Homo sapiens: one gene and its partners. The protein of the gene in region 1 binds, or shares a complex with, the protein of each later gene. Each region holds a gene or a part of one and is shown in the gene's direction. Other genes may lie near its edges.

Region 1 (3,579 bases):
AAAGAGAAATCCCTGTCTTCATGGAGTTTCTAGTCTAGTGAGGAGGAGTCAAGTGCATTGTCAGTGTCTGTTACATGGTGCTAAATACTACAGAGAGAAAGCAGGGAGCAGAAATAGAGGGAGGTGGGGCAAGTACGCTGCGGTTCTGAATAGGATAGTCAGGGGGGACCTGCGTAGTGTTTTTGAAAGGATGAGAGCAGGTCAGTGTCATGAAAGCAGCCGTCTCATACTGACCGTGTTCTGGGTAATCGGCTAGTGCTTTGCATGCTTTCCTGCTAATCCTCGAAGCCACCTTTTTAAGTTCATGGTGCCAACTTTGAGTGGTGGTGCCATTATTTTGGAGAAGGAAATCAAGTTACTGAGGTTAAGTAACTTGCCCTAAGTCCCACAGCCAAGTGGAGCTGGGATTGGGACACAGAATCCCATGCTTCCTCATCTCCTGTGCTTTATCACAGGCCCAGGAAGGCTGCCTCTTTGTACTGCGTTGTAAAGCACTGACAGTTGCTTTAACTCTTCTGTATTTCAGATCTTGATTCCACCCAAAGGTTTATTTTCAAAGCTCAAGAAAGAGGCTGAAAACCCCCGAGAAGTTTTGGATCAGGTAAACTGAATAGCATTTCTTGCAACCAGTTACTGGTGGTTGGTTCTGTTTTATGTCTGAAAACAGTCTCTGAGGCAGGACCTTGTTATGTTCCAGTCATGGGAATGGTGGGAGAAAAGGCTTTGTTGGCTACAAAGGCCAAAGAAACCTGGAGTCCGGATGCTTCCCAACATACCACAACTTTCTGCTTTGCTCTCAGCCTCAATATATCTCCCTCTTTTCCACTCTAGCTAGAAGACAGAAGGCCAGCTCCCAAGCAGATCAGAGGGTGGAATTTTCATTCTGTCCCAACTCTGCACCTGGGTGGAACCAGGTGCAAATGCCATAGTTTGGAACCATACTTCCATTCTGTTCCGAAGGAGGCGCTGACTTTGATGAAAGCCCTGGAGGTGGTAGCCTCATCAGGAGCAGACCCTGCTTCAGCGTAGCACCAAGCTGTTTCCCATCTCTGCAGGTGTGTTACCGAGTGGAATGGGCCAAATTCCAGGAACGTGAGAGGAAGAAGGAAGAAGAGGAGAAGGAGAAGGAGCGGGTGGCCTATGCTCAGATCGACTGGCATGATTTTGTGGTGGTGGAAACAGTGGACTTCCAACCCAATGAGCAAGGTAGGTCTGTGAGGAGTGACTCCAGATGGGGAGCCAGGAACTCAGACTTCCCGGGAAACCTGGTGCAGGTGTTCCCAGAGAGCAGTAGAATCTCTCAGAGGGCTTTATCAGTGCTGTCTCCTCCCTGCTCCCAAAAGACTTCAGTTCTACCACTTTGCCCAACTTAGATTCAATACGTACTTGCCAGACCCTAGATGGGCCTCTGGAGATAGCTGGAGAGAAAACAGACATGGCCCCAGCCCTTGGGGAGCTCAGACAGGGCAAATAGGTGGGTCTTTGATAAGGAATACCTTTGCCTCTGGCTCACCCTCTAGGGAACTTCCCTCCCCCCACCACGCCAGAGGAGCTGGGGGCCCGAATCCTCATTCAGGAGCGCTATGAAAAGTTTGGGGAGAGTGAGGAAGTTGAGATGGAGGTCGAGTCTGATGAGGAGGATGACAAACAGGAGAAGGCGGAGGAGCCTCCTTCCCAGCTGGACCAGGACACCCAAGTACAAGATATGGATGAGGTAAGCTGCTGGGCAGGCCTGCAGGATGACCTTTTCCCCTGAAGCCCCAGGAGGTCGAAGTGCTCTCCACCAGTCAGATCCAGCTCCCCTGTGAGCCTTGAAAGGAGGCGTGGGTCCTGAACAAGGCCATACAGCTGCCCAAGTCCAGGCAGCACAGAGCCTCTTTCCAGCTCCGGCAACAAAGATTCATTCATAGGCAAGGATCTAAAAGCTGTGCTGACCTGTTCTGTGGCCGCCTCCCTGGCCCGGACAGCCTGCTCTCACTGCCTCGTGCCAGCCCTCAGGGAACTCACTGCATTACCCTGTTCTGTTTTGAGCTCTCAGCTGGGCTCCAAGCTCCCAGAGCTTTTCTAAATGTAGCCCACGCTTCCTTTCAGGCATCCCTACCCCCTTCAAGCCAGGCCCTCTAAGCAGGCATGGAGTCTCCAGAACCAGACTGTTCTCCCCCACTCGGAAATAATTTGTGCACAGCCTGAGAAGAAAGGGCCCCTGTCTGTGGGAAATGACTTTTTCTCTCCCTCCCAGCATTGCTGTGTGAGCAGCTACCATTGATTGGCGACTCGCCGCCCCCACCCCTCGCCCCCTTGGCACTGTCCCCCCCCGGCATGTTAAGTGCCCTTGGCCTCTTGGGACTGCCTGGTGCCAGCTGCTGGAAATGCCTGGGAGGAGTGCTAGGACCGTGGCCTCAGCACTCCCATTCATGCTGTGAGGAAGCAGCTTGGCCTGCTGCCGGCTGGCCTCAGCTGCCCTGGGAGGCTTAGCACATGGACGCTGGCTGGCAGAGGCCAAGGCTCCTTGCCACCCAGAGACCTGCCAGGCTCAGCTACAGGGAGGTGGCCTCAGCCCCTCTCTGAGTCCTGCCATTGCTTTGCTTTTCAGGGTTCAGATGATGAAGAAGAAGGGCAGAAAGTGCCCCCACCCCCAGAGACACCCATGCCTCCACCTCTGCCCCCAACTCCAGACCAAGTCATTGTCCGCAAGGATTATGATCCCAAAGGTAGGGAGGGCCTGCTTCCCAACCCTCGGGCTGCCCAGGAAGTCCTGTGTGCCCTCATGTGTTCCTCACACCCGTCTTTCTAGGAGGGCTTGAGGTGCAGCTTATTGTAAAAGCATTGCAAGCCCGTCTGTTACAGGTTTCATGGTGGGAACAGGGCCCAGTCATCTCTGGTGCCCTAGTGCCTTTCACAGTGCCAGGTACAAGAGTGGCACTGAATAGATGCCTTGATGAATGATGCACGCATGAAATACCACCCTCTTAACTCAGGTGGCTGCCCACCAGTGTTCTTACTGAAACATCTGTTTCCTTTTAGCCTCCAAGCCCTTGCCTCCAGCCCCTGCTCCAGATGAGTATCTTGTGTCCCCCATTACTGGGGAGAAGATCCCCGCCAGCAAAATGCAGGAACACATGCGCATTGGACTTCTTGACCCTCGCTGGCTGGAGCAGCGGGATCGCTCCATCCGTGAGAAGCAGAGCGATGATGAGGTGTACGCACCAGGTGAGGTGGGGGTTCCAGGAGAGCCCATGGTAGTCTCCGAATTACAGCCATCTTCTTCTAAGCAAACATAGAAAGCAACAATTGAGGTCAACAAAAGCTTTTGAGGAGAGTTGCACTCTATGATATTGCAAGAGAACTCCCCACTTTCCAGAAGAACTCCCCATAGAAATTCCCCAAAGGCAGACACTGAAGGAGATGCCATGTGCCTGTTGACATCCCAGAGCAAGCTCTGGCTTTAGCTGGAAGGGCTTCCTGTGGCTGTTTAGAAGGAGAGCATTGATGGCTGGAGTACCATGAGCTCTTTGGAATGGGGCAGGAACTGTGCCACAGGTGGGAGACTGGGCTTCTAGTTTTGACTCTGCCACTTAC
Region 2 (3,579 bases), on another chromosome or scaffold:
TGTTTCCAGATATGTCTCTGAATATTAAGAATGACCAGAGAGAAATAATTTTATCTCAGCCAGATGTGGTGTCTCAACACCTGTAATCCCAGCACTTTGGGAGGCTGAGGTGGGAGGATCCCTTGGGGCCAGGGGTTTAAGACTAGCCTGGGCAACATAGTGAAACCGCACCTCTACTTTAAAAAAAAAAAAAAAGAAAAAAGAAATAATTTTTTTTTAGCTTCACTTCAGTCTCTCAGAAATAATTTTATCTCAAGAATGTCTTCAAATTTCTTATTTTAAAATAAGCATTAAAAAAATTGATGAGTCATTAAAGTAAAACAGTAGTATTGTTAAATTTTAGATAGAAATTTCTGCCCCTTAAGATAAATAGATTCTGAACAAGCTAGCTTTCCAAAGTTAGGAAAACTCAATAAGAAATTGAAGTCATGTTTTCAATGTACGTATTTTGGTTTCAGACAGTAAAGACTCTGCCATGACAGAAGTTATTAGCATACTTTCTGCCTCCTGTCTCCTTATCCTGTTGCCTCCAGATTTTAGTTGTTTATTAATTTTGGTTTCTAATGCTTCATAACATTTGATTTAATTCTGCAGTCATAATTTCCGGAGTTCCCAAGTATCAGCTCTGTACTTTTGAGTGTGCCTTTTCTCTAGGGCTTCAGAATTTCTTTTGCAGCTAAGGAGTGAACTGATTGTGCTCACTGTCTTGCAGAGCTGTTCCTTTGGGTACCATGCTGGTGGCTGGGGCAAACCTCCAGTGGATGAGACTGGGAAACCGCTCTATGGGGACGTGTTTGGAACCAATGCTGCTGAATTTCAGGTATGGGCCATGTACTAGCGATCTTGGTTTTACTTAATGTCATGAAGGTTAGATTGTTGGTTTATAGCTTCATTATCAGGGAGTTGTGTGTTCTGACACAGCAGAGCCTGGAAAAGGGCATACATTTTCCTGAGATGTTAATGTAAGCTCCTCACTAGAATTTGAGCTCTAGGTAGGTAGGGATTATTGTGTTTTGACTCTTACACCCCTTCAGCTTAAAACAGCCTGGCACATAATAGGTACTTAGAAAACATTTGTTGAATGATAAAGTGATCTCTTTCAGACCAAGACTGAGGAAGAAGAGATTGATCGGACCCCTTGGGGGGAACTGGAACCATCTGATGAAGAATCCTCAGAAGAAGAGGAAGAGGAAGAAAGTGATGAAGACAAACCAGATGAGACAGGCTTTATTACCCCTGCAGACAGGTGGGGGAAGCAGAGAATGCCTCTTGGAAGTGGGCTATCTTTGGGGTCCTTCTCTTTACTCCAGAGCTTGTTCCTCTCTTTACAGTGGCCTTATCACTCCTGGAGGCTTTTCATCAGTGCCTGCTGGAATGGAGACCCCTGAACTCATTGAGCTGAGGAAGAAGAAGATTGAGGAGGCGATGGACGGGTAAGGGTACCAGACAGGGCTGAGAGGGGAGGACCTTCACTTCCCTTTGGCTGGCTGGCTGACTGTTGTTCCTTTCTCCCTCATCCTTTTTTAAACAATTATTGAACCAACTCTCTGCCAGGCACTACTGTAGGCAGTGAGGAGTCAGCAGTTGAGGTAAACTGGTAATCAGAGAACAAGATACTTTCAGATGTAGATAAGGATGTTGAAGCAGAGGAAACTGGGTAATGGGATGGGGTGGCAGGGAGGCCTTTGGGAAGGCCTCACTGGGGAGGTGGTGCTTGAACTAAGACCCGAATGAAAAAGCGCCAGCCACAGGATCATCTGGGTCAGAAGTAACAGTAAATGCAAGCAAGTGCAAAGGCACTGAGACAGGGATGGGCTAGTATTTTGAAGCTCCATTTTTAGGTAGTTGAATGTGTAGTGTTGTTAGGTCTTCATGAATTGACCCCTTTATCATGAAATGACCCTCTCTTTATCCATTCTGCTCTTTGTTCCCTTTTTCCTGTTTTTCTACCTTCTTTTGGATTACTTGAACAATTTTTATGATTTCATTTTATCTCCAGTGTTGGTTAATTAGCTGTTAAGTTTTTGCTTTGTTATTTTAGTTGTTGCTCTGGGGTTTATAGATCATGTCTTTATCAGGATCTACCTTCTCTTGATGTTACACTGCTTCCAGATAGTATTAAGAGCCATTATAGTATACTTCATTTCTCTCCTCCCAATTTTTGCACTATATTGTCATATATTCACTTTTACATATGTTATAAATCCTATACTATATAGTTATTATTTTTGTTTAAATGGTCAGTTATCTTTTAGGGAGGTTTAAATAAGAATCATGCATGAAGCCATGTAGTTACCATTTTTGTTTCTTTCATTTCTTTGTGTATATCCAGGTTTCTATCTGATATCATTTTTCCTCTGCCTGAAGGGCTTCCTTTAACATTTCTTAAGTTAGGGGGCGTGGTGGCTTAAGCCTGTAATCTCAGTACTCTCAGTACTTTGGGAGAAGGCTGAGGTGGTAGGATTGCTAGATTCCAGGAATTTGAGACCAGCCTGGGCAACATAGTGAGACCCCATTTCTACAAAATATTAAAAAAACATTTCTTGTATTGTGGGTCTGCTGGTTTTGAATTTGTTCTGCTTGAGTAGTCTTAAAAATTCTTTATTTGGCCTTCATTTTTGAAAGATCTTTGCCAGGTTTAGGATTCTAGGTTGACAATCTTTTTTCTTTCAACACTTTTTTTTTTCTTCTTTGAGATGGAATCTTGCTATGTCGCCCAGGCTGGAGTGTAGTGGTGTGATCTTGGCTCACTATAACCTCCACCTCCTGGGTTCAAGCGATTCTCCTGTTTCAGCCTCCCGAGTAGCTGAGATTACATGTGCATACCATCACACCCAGCTAATTTTTATATTTTTAGTAGGGATGGGGTTTTGCCATGTTGGCCAGGCTGGTCTCGAGCTCCTGGCTTCAAGTGATCCGCCTGCCTTGGCCTCCCAGCTTGTTGGGATTACATGTGTGAGTGACCGCATCAGCCTTCTTTCAGTACTTTTAAGATGTTGCTCCAGTGTCTTCTTTCTTGCATTGTTTCTAGTGAGAAAACTGCTGTCATTCTTACCTTTGTTCCTGTGTACATAATGTGTCATTTTTATTTGGCTGTTTTTAAGATTTTATCACTAGTTCTAACAATTTGACTACAATGTGCCTTGGTGTAGTTTCTGAATGTTTCTTTGCTTGGGGTTTTTTAAGCATCTTAGATCTGGGTTTTTAGTTTTTATTAATTTGGGGAAAATTTTGTCATGATTTCTGCAGATATTTTCTCTGTTCCCTTCTCTTTCCTTTGGGAACTCAAATTATTCCTCTATTAATGAAATAATAAATGAAAAAATAAATGAAGAGCTCACTGATGCTCTTCATTTTTAAAGAAATTCTTCTCTCTTTGTATTTCACTTTAGAAAATTTCTATTGCTATATGTTCAAGTTTACTATTATTTTCTTCTGTAATTTCTGATCTAACAGTAATCCCATACAATATAATTCTCCTTTCTAGAAGTTTGATTTCGGGTCTTTTAAATCTATTCTTTCTCTCTTAACTTTTTGAACATGTGGAATGCAGTTATAACAATATTTTATTTTTATGTT
Region 3 (3,579 bases), on another chromosome or scaffold:
CATTTTTCTGTTACAGAGCCACATCACTGCAGCTTTCATCTCTAATAAAGATCTTTATAAGTGTTTTGTTAATAAGCTTTGAACTTCTTTGAAGTGGACACTGCAAAACATGAACTATTTAAAAGTTGACCTTGCCTGAGGCCTACTAACTCTTTTGTCTTTGATTCAACTGGTGCCTCAAATGCAGTGGCCCCAGGTCTGATTTTAGTGACAGATCTGATAGATGTGAGGGTCATTCTGAGTGATGAATCAAATTGTTAAAGTCAGGTTTCTTTCTGTTACTGACTCTAGGTCTATCCAGATGGCATTCGGCACATACGAGCAGACAAGAGAGTCAATGAGTGGAAGACCCCTGGAAAGAAAACAATTGTGAAGTGTGCAGTGAACCAGCGACAAGTGGTGATTGCCCTGACAGGAGGAGAGCTGGTCTATTTCGAGATGGATCCTGTATGTTATTTTATCATTCACTGTGGGACTTATTGTAGGGACCAGAGGGAAAGATGGGCATTGTAGTCTAGTCATTTAGATGATAGTATGGTGAAATCCTGTCTCTACTAAAAATACAAAAATTAGCTGGGCGTGTTGGCATGCACCTTGTAGTCCTAGCTACTCAGGAGGCTGAGGCAGGAGAATTGCTTGAACCCGGGAGGCAGAGGTTGCGGTGAGCTGAGATTGCACCACTGCACTCCAGCCTGGCGACAGAGCAAGACTCCGTCTCAAAAAAAAAAAAAAAAAAAAAAAGCGAGCTGGAGTGACAGTGTTCACAAACCAGTTTGGTCCCTTACAGAGATGGGGAAAAGGGGTAATTTGATGTCTAATTCTAGGTAGAGTTATGAAATCCCCTCTTAGCAGTGAAACACTTGCTCCTCCTGCATTTCACTCTCTACTTTTCCAACAAATATTTGGCATAGATTTAATTTCTGCAGTCTGAATCCATTTCAGAAAACTTCTATATGGAAGGATGTTCAGTACACTTAATTCTCTTGCTCTCAGGAGGTCTCTAGTGTGGCCAAATTTGTAGCCTGCCTGTACCTTTGGTTGAGATTTCTCTGTCTTTAACCATATTTGAATTCCCTTCACCCAGAATATTCTTGTAAAACACAGACAGTTTTATATGTCTCCATTTCCTGAGAACAAAGTTGGCTCAGAAAATTTGTGGCACATTGACCTTGTCAAAGGTCTGTTCATTCTCTTATTGATGGAAGATACTCATTTTGCTTGCTGTGAGCCTGTTAACTTCAGTCTTGAGAACTCAGGTAGATAAATTCTTGTCATTTACTATAGTAAGAGGAGTGAGAGGAAGCAGAACAAAATACAACAGCCCTCCTTCATTCTCTGGATCCAGGGTTTTGGGGTGAATTGGAGCATCTAGACCCATCCCTCTGTAGTTTTGACCTTGCTGTGTCTTTCCTCCTGTAGTCAGGACAGCTGAATGAGTACACAGAACGGAAGGAGATGTCAGCAGATGTGGTGTGCATGAGTCTGGCCAATGTACCCCCTGGAGAGCAGCGGTCTCGCTTCCTGGCTGTGGGGCTTGTGGACAACACTGTCAGAATCATCTCCCTGGATCCCTCAGTGAGTGACACTCTGAGCTTCAAGGATCATCTGGTTGGAACCTGAGCATCTGGCTCCTGATGTCTATCTCTGAGATCCACTCCTGATGTCTATCTCTGAGATCAGCTGGGTTAGAACCCAGAATCCATACCTGCTGCTTCTCTTGTCATTGCAGTGTGTTTCAGGAGTTTCCTGCTGTGGTTTAAGGATATGATCTGAGACTACAGAAATGTTTCTTTGGCTTAAGCCTCAACTCCTTTTTTTAAGTTAACAACCAAGACTGCATAAATTTGACTTGCTGCAGGACCCTAGGTGACTTTTCAGGAGGTGTGCTTTGCTTAATTACCTTTGCCATTATCTTCTTTGACAAAAGGAGGAAAGCATGATCTTCCCGAAGCTTATTCTGAAATTGGGTGTAACTAATAACTCAGTACTCTCTTAGAACTCACTCCCCGGGTTTTTTCTGTGCATAAGGAAGTACTTTTTCAATCCTAGAATTAGATTTCTCTGGGTATGTTTTTTTCCTAAAATTGTCATTTTCTGTGTTTTTATGATTTTTCTCTCCCTCTCAGGACTGTTTGCAACCTCTAAGCATGCAGGCTCTCCCAGCCCAGCCTGAGTCCTTGTGTATCGTGGAAATGGGTGGGACTGAGAAGCAGGATGAGCTGGGTGAGAGGGGCTCGATTGGCTTCCTATACCTGAATATTGGGCTACAGGTAAGAGATCCAGAGGCCCACATTGTGGACATTAGGCCTTCTGTACGTTTCACACACTCCTTTGTTTGATAACAGGGATTTTCTCTGCCCATGGTTTCAGATCCTCACCTTATGAAAAGTGAACAGTGTCACTCTGGGTTCCACTTTTCTCAGCTCTTTAATTCGAACAAATCAGGCTGAGAAAGAAATATTTTGATAAAGAGTCTTCACATCTGATAAATGCTGTTTGATAGCTACTCTAAGTCAGAACTGGATGGGTTCCTGAAGGATCAACTGTAGTTCCCACTATTCACTAGTTTCAAAAGCAGCAATGAATACCTCTCAGTTCATAATTGGCTTCATTAGCAATAAAGGACCCCTAAATGTTCCCTGTTGTCAAAGTTGCTGAGCTCTTTGTGCCGTGAAGAAAAGGTGTGCTTTAACGCTAAGATAGTGTCAGGATTCTTGATCATATGCTTTTCATTTTCCTTAATGATTATTGACTCAGACATCTAAGTAATCTAGCCCAGGTACTTTTTGCTTTTTAATTTTACTTCCTAATTTAGAAATCTCAAACATAGCCAGAAGTTAGAGAGACTAATACAGTGAACTTCCATGTACCCAGTTTTTTTGGGAGAGGGTTGTTGTTATTTTTTTAGTTTTTTTTCTTTTGTTGGATTTTTATGGGCTGCCACATGGGTTTTCGGTCTATTTTTTTCTTTTTTAGTTTTAACAGCTATCAGCAACATTCTGCTGTTCTTATTTTATCTTTTCCCTGGACTATTTTAAAGCAAATCCAAGATCTATCATTTCATCTATAAATACTTGATAATGTAGTTCCAACAGATGTCTGTTTTTGTAAGATACTAGTATTATCATGCTCAGCAAAATATAACAATAGTTCCTTATTACCATGTTCCAGTTTTCCCTGTTCTTCTTTCCCCCAATGTGGCTTTATAGTTGGTTGTGCTCAGGACCTCAGCATAGCAGTCTACGCTTTTTCCATTTCCTTCATCTTTCTTTTTATGTCTCTTAAACTGTTCTACCCCATTTTGAAGTATTACAAGATCAGATCATTTGTCTTGTAGAATTTCCCACCTTCTGGACTTAATAAAGTCATTCCTTATGTGTTCAAGTTCCTGTATCCTCTGTATCAAGCTGGTGGGTAGAATTAGACCATGCCATCCATTAGAAATGTAAGGTGAACTACAGGTGTAATTTAAATTTTCTAGTAGCCACGAACAGGAAAAAAGTAATTTTAATGTTTTTTTTTTTTCTTTAAAAAAAAATAGAGATAGGGTCTCGCTGTGTTGCTCAGACTGGTCTTGAA
Region 4 (3,579 bases), on another chromosome or scaffold:
GTGGTGGTGTGCGCCTGTATGTAGTCTCAGCTACTCAGGAGGCTGACATGGGAGGATCACTTGAGCTTGGTAGGTGGAGACTGCAGTGAGCCGTGATTGTGCCACTGCACTCAACCTGGGCGACAGAGTGAGACCCTGTGTCAAAAAACAAATGAAAATCCACCTCTCATCTTTTTTCATTAATCTTGCCAGCATCAGCTAGGGTAATATTATTTGGTACACATGTAACTGTACATACAAACTGATCTCAAGATTGAAATCATGTGACGGTATCTGGTTATAATTACATAGGTGGGGCCTGGTGCGGTGGCTCACGCCTGTAATCCCAGCACTTTGGGAGGCCAAGGTGGGTGGATCACGAGGTCAGGAGTTCGAGACCAGCCTGACCAACGTGGAGAAACCCTGTTTCTACTAAAAATACAAAAATTAGCCCGGCGTGGTGGCAGGCACCTGTAACCCCAGCTACTCAGGAGGCTGAGGCTGGAGAATCACTTGAACCCGGGAGGCAGAGGTTGCTGTGAGCCAAGATCATGCCCCGGCACTCCAGCCTGGGTGACAGAGCGAGACTCTGTCTCAAAAAAAAAAAAAAAAAAAAAATTACATAGGTGATCTAAAGCATGTTTATATTAATTAAACACACACAATTAAACAAAACATCAACAGGACTATTTTCTTAGAACACACGAATTCCTTCTCCCCTAAATATGTGTCTCTAAGCCCCACTTTGAGAAGTACTAATGTAATTAGAGCTGAAAGCCTTCGATTACTGATCTAGATAGAGAAACCTCAGTGATTTCCCCCAGTCACAGAGCTATTAATGGCATATCAAAGATTCATATCGATAATATTTTGTTTTTTTAAGCTGGGACTTTTGTCAGTGCTTCGGATTGAAACTTTACATTGTTTTTAATCATAAACATTTGCTAGAAAGTAGGTATCTTTTCCTATAAGTAGAGGTAGTGTCTTCTAACTTTTCATTAATTATAGTGCATAGAACTAAAACATTTTTCGTTTAAAGTTTTTTATTTTATGGAAATTTTCTAATTATTTCTGTGTGGGTGTGTGAAATAAAATTTTTTTGCTTTTTTAAGACCCCTGGGCATACTCCTTCCTTAAGATGGGATGAGACACCAGGTCGTGCAAAGGGAAGCGAGACTCCTGGAGCAACCCCAGGCTCAAAAATATGGGATCCTACACCTAGCCACACACCAGCGGGAGCTGCTACTCCTGGACGAGGTGATACACCAGGCCATGCGACACCAGGCCATGGAGGCGCAACTTCCAGTGCTCGTAAAAACAGATGGGATGAAACCCCCAAAACAGAGAGAGGTACTTCTAGTGGAGTATGGGTGTGTGGGTGAAATGTTGAGTGATATGTTTACAGACTGAAATGTGTTCTGTTTATTCCTGGGTGGACACGTATAAATAACCAGCTGCTTTTGGGGGACAGATTAAGAATAGAACAGTTCATATGCCTAATTTTTTCCACTTCTTGAAGTGGTTTAAGATTTAAGGAAGAACCTTAGGTAAAAGTAAAGTTAGTAGGCTGTAACCTTTGATTTTGTGTGTTTCTTTAGAGATAGGGTCTTGCTCACTGTAGCCTTGACATCCTAGGCTCAAGTGATCTTCCCACCTCAGCCTTCTTAGTAGCTGAGACTATAGGGGCATGCCACCATGCCTGGCTAATTTTTTTTTTTTGAGATGGAGTTTTGCTCTTGTTGTCCAGACTGGAATGCAATGGCGCGATCTCAGCTCACTGCAACCTCCACCTCCCGGATTCAGGCGATTCTCCTGCCTCAGCCTTCCTGAGTAGCTGGGATTACAGGCATGCGCCACCAAGCCCGGCTAATTTTGTATTTTTAGTAGAGACGGGGTTTCTCTATGCTGGTCAGGCGGGTCTCGAACTCCCGACCTCAGATGATCTGCCCCCCTCGGCCTTCTGAAATGCTGGGATTACAGGCATGAGCCACCGCTTCCGGCCCCTGGCTAATTTTTAAATTTTTTGTAGAGACAATGTCTTGCTTCATTGCCCAGCCTGGTGTTGAACTCCTGGTTTCAAGTGATCTGCCAAAGTGTTGGAATTACAGGCATGAACCACTGTGCCTGACTTACCCTTTGTTTTTTATTATGGAAAAATGTACATAACATCAAATTTACTTTTTTTGTTGTTGTTGTTGAGATGGAGTCTTGCTCTGTCACCCAAGCTAGAGTGCAGTGGTGCGCTCTCGGCTGACTGCAACCTCTGCCTCCCCAGTTCAAGTGATTCTTTTGCTTCAGCCTCCTGAGTAGCTGGGATTACAAGCGCCCACCACCACACCTGGCTACTTTTTGTATTTTTAGTAGAGACAGAGTTTCATCATGTTGATCAGGCTGGTCTCAAACAACTTTAAATGGGTCACCATTTTAGGAATATTCTATTTTAGAACTTGATAGTTTTGAGTATAACTGTTTGAGAATAAAGAATATTATTTTAACAGTGATTAAAATTGTGGTTTTACTCACTCTTTCTTTTTAAAGATACTCCTGGGCATGGAAGTGGATGGGCTGAGACTCCTCGAACAGATCGAGGTGGAGATTCTATTGGTGAAACACCGACTCCTGGAGCCAGTAAAAGAAAATCACGGTGGGATGAAACACCAGCTAGTCAGATGGGTGGAAGCACTCCAGTTCTGACCCCTGGAAAGACACCAATTGGCACACCAGCCATGAACATGGCTACCCCTACTCCAGGTAGAACTGTCTCATTGGACATAATTGTTTTTTTCTCCATAAATTATTTAATTTTTTCCTTTGTGGTATTCTGTGTACTATTAATGTCAACTTCTAGTAAGAATAAGGAGATATACAAATTTAAGTCTTGGTTTGCGTTTATAATATAAAAGCAAATAATAGGATTGATCTTAACTGTCTTTTATCTCAATGTATGTAATAATACAGTCTTGTACTATAGATTATATAAAAATTTGCTTTTCTTGGTAGGTCACATAATGAGTATGACTCCTGAACAGCTTCAGGCTTGGCGGTGGGAAAGAGAAATTGATGAGAGAAATCGCCCACTTTCTGATGAGGAATTAGATGCTATGTTCCCAGAAGGATATAAGGTAGTACATCAAATTTGAATGAGGTGGTATTTAGGATATACATTTATTTTAAATAGTGAAAAAAATTGATTAAGCTTGCATTGGCTTTGCCCAAATTTACTATTGTCATTCCATTCTCTTAGCTATTTCCAGGTATATTTCAGTTCCATATAGAGATGAAAAGAAATGAACAACATGAAACTTTTATTACTTTTTGAAAGACATCTCAAAGACTTGTGTATGGGTCTATCGGTTATACTTTGAGAACTGCTGGTGCTTCAGTTTTCTAGCAGTCCCAGGAATAAGCTCGTTGAGATTGTGGTTATTTTACTTGGTGCTTCACCAAGATTTTATATACTTAAGTTTATGGATTGTCAGTGGACACAAAGAATTTTTTTTTTTTTTTTTTTTTAAAAGATGGAGTCTCACTCTGTTGCCCAGGCTGAAGTGCAGTGGCGTGATTTCGGCTCATTGCAACCTCCGCCTCCCAGGTTTAAGC
Region 5 (2,707 bases), on another chromosome or scaffold:
CCAGGCATGGGATGGGACTACAGATTATCAGGTAAATTTTGCTGCTTGTCAAGGGCACACACATTGTTTCATTACCAACAAATACTGATCCTTCAGATCTAAATTTTGGGTTTGGTTTAACCTATTTAATGTAACAATGCTTCTTTTATTTTTATTTACTTATATATTTTAATTTTTTACTCTTCCTCTTAATTATTTACAGTGCTGCTTTTAAATAATATTTTGCATTCAGAAGATAGAGAAATGTTTGAGTCTTTCAGTTTCTAAGTCTGAAAGTTTGAGGCTTGTTCAGAATAGTGATAAGAAAAGAACACATTCAACCAAATGTTACTCTTCCTTTGTATGCTGTAAAGTATAGACAGAGCTCAAATATTAACTTTTTAAGAGATGAGACATTTCTGCAGTACTGTGATATTTGGCCTTTATTTAAGTGGTCTTATTTAAGGTCAACTCTAGTAAATCAAGATGTAAAGTTTTGAAAACTGAAGATGGAATTGCTTTCATTTCCTAATAAGAGATGCTTTATAAAATTAAGGTTGTTTCATCAATATTAGATATGTTCAGAGAAGTAACCTTTTGCCTGAAACTTATTTTAATGGCAGTCTCCATTTATCCACAGGTGGAGGAAACCTCAAGAGAAAGGGAGGAAAGGCTGAGAGGATGGGAGGCTTTCCTCAATGCTCCTGAGGCCAACAGAGGCCTTAGGCGTTCAGATTCTGTCTCTGCTTCCGAAAGGGCAGGGCCTTCTAGAGCAAGGCATTTTTCAGAGCACCCCAGCACATCTAAAATGAATGCTCAAGAAACTGCAACTGGAATGGCGTTTGAAGAACCTATAGATGAGAAGAAGTTTGAAAAGACAGAAGATGGGGGAGAATTTGAAGAAGGTGCTTCTGAAAACAATGCTAAGGAAAGTAGCCCCGAAAAAGAGGCTGAAGAAGGCTGCCCTGAAAAAGAATCTGAAGAGGGCTGCCCCAAAAGAGGGTTTGAAGGCAGCTGCTCCCAAAAAGAGTCTGAAGAAGGCAATCCCGTAAGAGGATCTGAAGAGGATAGTCCTAAAAAAGAGTCTAAAAAGAAGACACTCAAAAATGATTGTGAAGAGAATGGCCTTGCAAAGGAATCTGAAGATGACCTCAACAAGGAGTCTGAAGAGGAGGTTGGCCCCACAAAAGAGTCCGAAGAAGATGACTCAGAGAAAGAGTCTGATGAAGACTGCTCTGAAAAACAGTCTGAAGATGGCTCCGAAAGAGAATTTGAAGAAAATGGTCTCGAGAAAGATTTGGACGAGGAAGGTTCTGAAAAGGAGCTTCATGAAAATGTTCTTGACAAAGAGTTAGAAGAAAATGACTCTGAAAACTCCGAATTTGAAGATGACGGCTCTGAAAAAGTGTTAGATGAGGAAGGCTCTGAGAGAGAGTTTGACGAAGATTCAGATGAAAAGGAAGAAGAGGAGGATACATATGAAAAAGTATTTGATGATGAGTCTGATGAGAAAGAGGATGAAGAATATGCAGATGAAAAGGGGCTTGAAGCTGCTGATAAAAAGGCGGAAGAAGGTGATGCAGATGAAAAGCTGTTTGAAGAGTCAGATGACAAGGAAGATGAAGATGCAGATGGAAAGGAAGTTGAAGATGCTGACGAAAAGTTGTTCGAAGATGATGATTCCAATGAGAAGTTGTTTGATGAGGAGGAAGATTCCAGTGAGAAGTTGTTTGACGATTCTGATGAGAGGGGGACTTTGGGTGGTTTTGGGAGTGTTGAAGAAGGGCCCCTATCCACTGGCAGCAGCTTTATTCTCAGTAGCGATGATGATGACGATGATATTTAATCCCTTAAACTTGCTTTTTAGGGAGAGTCCTCCATCTACATTTGCCTGTGCTTCAGGGTAATTACTAGTAGTGTTACATGAACATGTGCATAGTGGTAGGATGCCATCAGATTAAAGCATTGAAGTGTTTCATTGTTACCTGTACCTAATGGTTTTAAATATATGTTAATTGATTGTTTAGTTAAAATGTCATAGTTACAATGCAAGTAAACTGGATACTTGTTCTTTTGTCAGATTTGTTAAATGCATGCAGAATAATATTTTTAAGAGTATTGATTGAAGTTTGTGATATTCATCAATAAAAATGAGTTGATAATATGCAGAAACTGAAAATTGGACTTGAGTTAAATTGCATTTTAAATTCTTGATATTGCTTTATTTATACTGAAGGTTGGCTTTTCTGAGGACTTGAAGAATCTCTTTGGAGTCTCCTTGCTTCCCGCTGGTATTAGCACGTATGTCTCCATTTCCTCTCTATAAACCAGAACATGTTCCTAAACTCAGAAAACAACCCTCTGGATTTTTTTTTTCTGCCCAGTCCTTGCAAATTAACTCTTGTTTGTTTTCTACCCTCTTTCCATTAAAATTGACTCTCAGATGTGCAAAAGTGAACTTCCTGCAGTCTACAGCTCCCATTATTATTAAAAATCTAAAGAAACAGATTAGAATTCTACCTTGTACTGTTAGCGTCTCTGGGCCCCTTTAGAAGTTAATTCAAATTAGAGGACCTCTTCCCAGAAAAAAATGTACACACTACACTACACAACTTGTGTACTGTTTGGGGAGGTTCATGGATTCCCTGAAGTTGAAGAACTTCATGCATGCTTCAGTTGTTCGTTTTTTTAGAATCATAGTGCCTAGCACTGTGCAAAGTTGTGTAGT

What was found.
Region 2: SF3A1 (region 1) and SF3B2 share a complex: the UniProt entries of both Homo sapiens proteins name them as parts of the 17S U2 SnRNP complex.
Region 3: SF3A1 (region 1) and SF3B3 share a complex: the UniProt entries of both Homo sapiens proteins name them as parts of the 17S U2 SnRNP complex.
Region 4: SF3A1 (region 1) and SF3B1 share a complex: the UniProt entries of both Homo sapiens proteins name them as parts of the 17S U2 SnRNP complex.
Region 5: SF3A1 (region 1) and HTATSF1 share a complex: the UniProt entries of both Homo sapiens proteins name them as parts of the 17S U2 SnRNP complex.

Annotation. Positions count from the first base shown.
Region 1 is NC_000022.11:30,339,827-30,343,405, reverse strand, and holds part of SF3A1 (splicing factor 3A subunit 1), read left to right. Parts: intron 1-526; coding exon 527-601; intron 602-1,055; coding exon 1,056-1,206; intron 1,207-1,520; coding exon 1,521-1,714; intron 1,715-2,593; coding exon 2,594-2,711; intron 2,712-3,024; coding exon 3,025-3,210; intron 3,211-3,579. UniProt on the Homo sapiens protein: Component of the 17S U2 SnRNP complex of the spliceosome, a large ribonucleoprotein complex that removes introns from transcribed pre-mRNAs.
Region 2 is NC_000011.10:66,062,297-66,065,875, forward strand, and holds part of SF3B2 (splicing factor 3B subunit 2), read left to right. Parts: intron 1-712; coding exon 713-820; intron 821-1,103; coding exon 1,104-1,246; intron 1,247-1,331; coding exon 1,332-1,433; intron 1,434-3,579. UniProt on the Homo sapiens protein: Component of the 17S U2 SnRNP complex of the spliceosome, a large ribonucleoprotein complex that removes introns from transcribed pre-mRNAs.
Region 3 is NC_000016.10:70,554,760-70,558,338, forward strand, and holds part of SF3B3 (splicing factor 3B subunit 3), read left to right. Parts: intron 1-291; coding exon 292-447; intron 448-1,419; coding exon 1,420-1,575; intron 1,576-2,126; coding exon 2,127-2,270; intron 2,271-3,579. UniProt on the Homo sapiens protein: Component of the 17S U2 SnRNP complex of the spliceosome, a large ribonucleoprotein complex that removes introns from transcribed pre-mRNAs.
Region 4 is NC_000002.12:197,407,520-197,411,098, reverse strand, and holds part of SF3B1 (splicing factor 3B subunit 1), read left to right. Parts: intron 1-1,091; coding exon 1,092-1,329; intron 1,330-2,517; coding exon 2,518-2,730; intron 2,731-2,979; coding exon 2,980-3,101; intron 3,102-3,579. UniProt on the Homo sapiens protein: Component of the 17S U2 SnRNP complex of the spliceosome, a large ribonucleoprotein complex that removes introns from transcribed pre-mRNAs.
Region 5 is NC_000023.11:136,510,189-136,512,895, forward strand, and holds the end of HTATSF1 (17S U2 SnRNP complex component HTATSF1), read left to right. Parts: coding exon 1-31; intron 32-619; coding exon 620-1,825; 3' UTR 1,826-2,158; downstream 2,159-2,707. UniProt on the Homo sapiens protein: Component of the 17S U2 SnRNP complex of the spliceosome, a large ribonucleoprotein complex that removes introns from transcribed pre-mRNAs.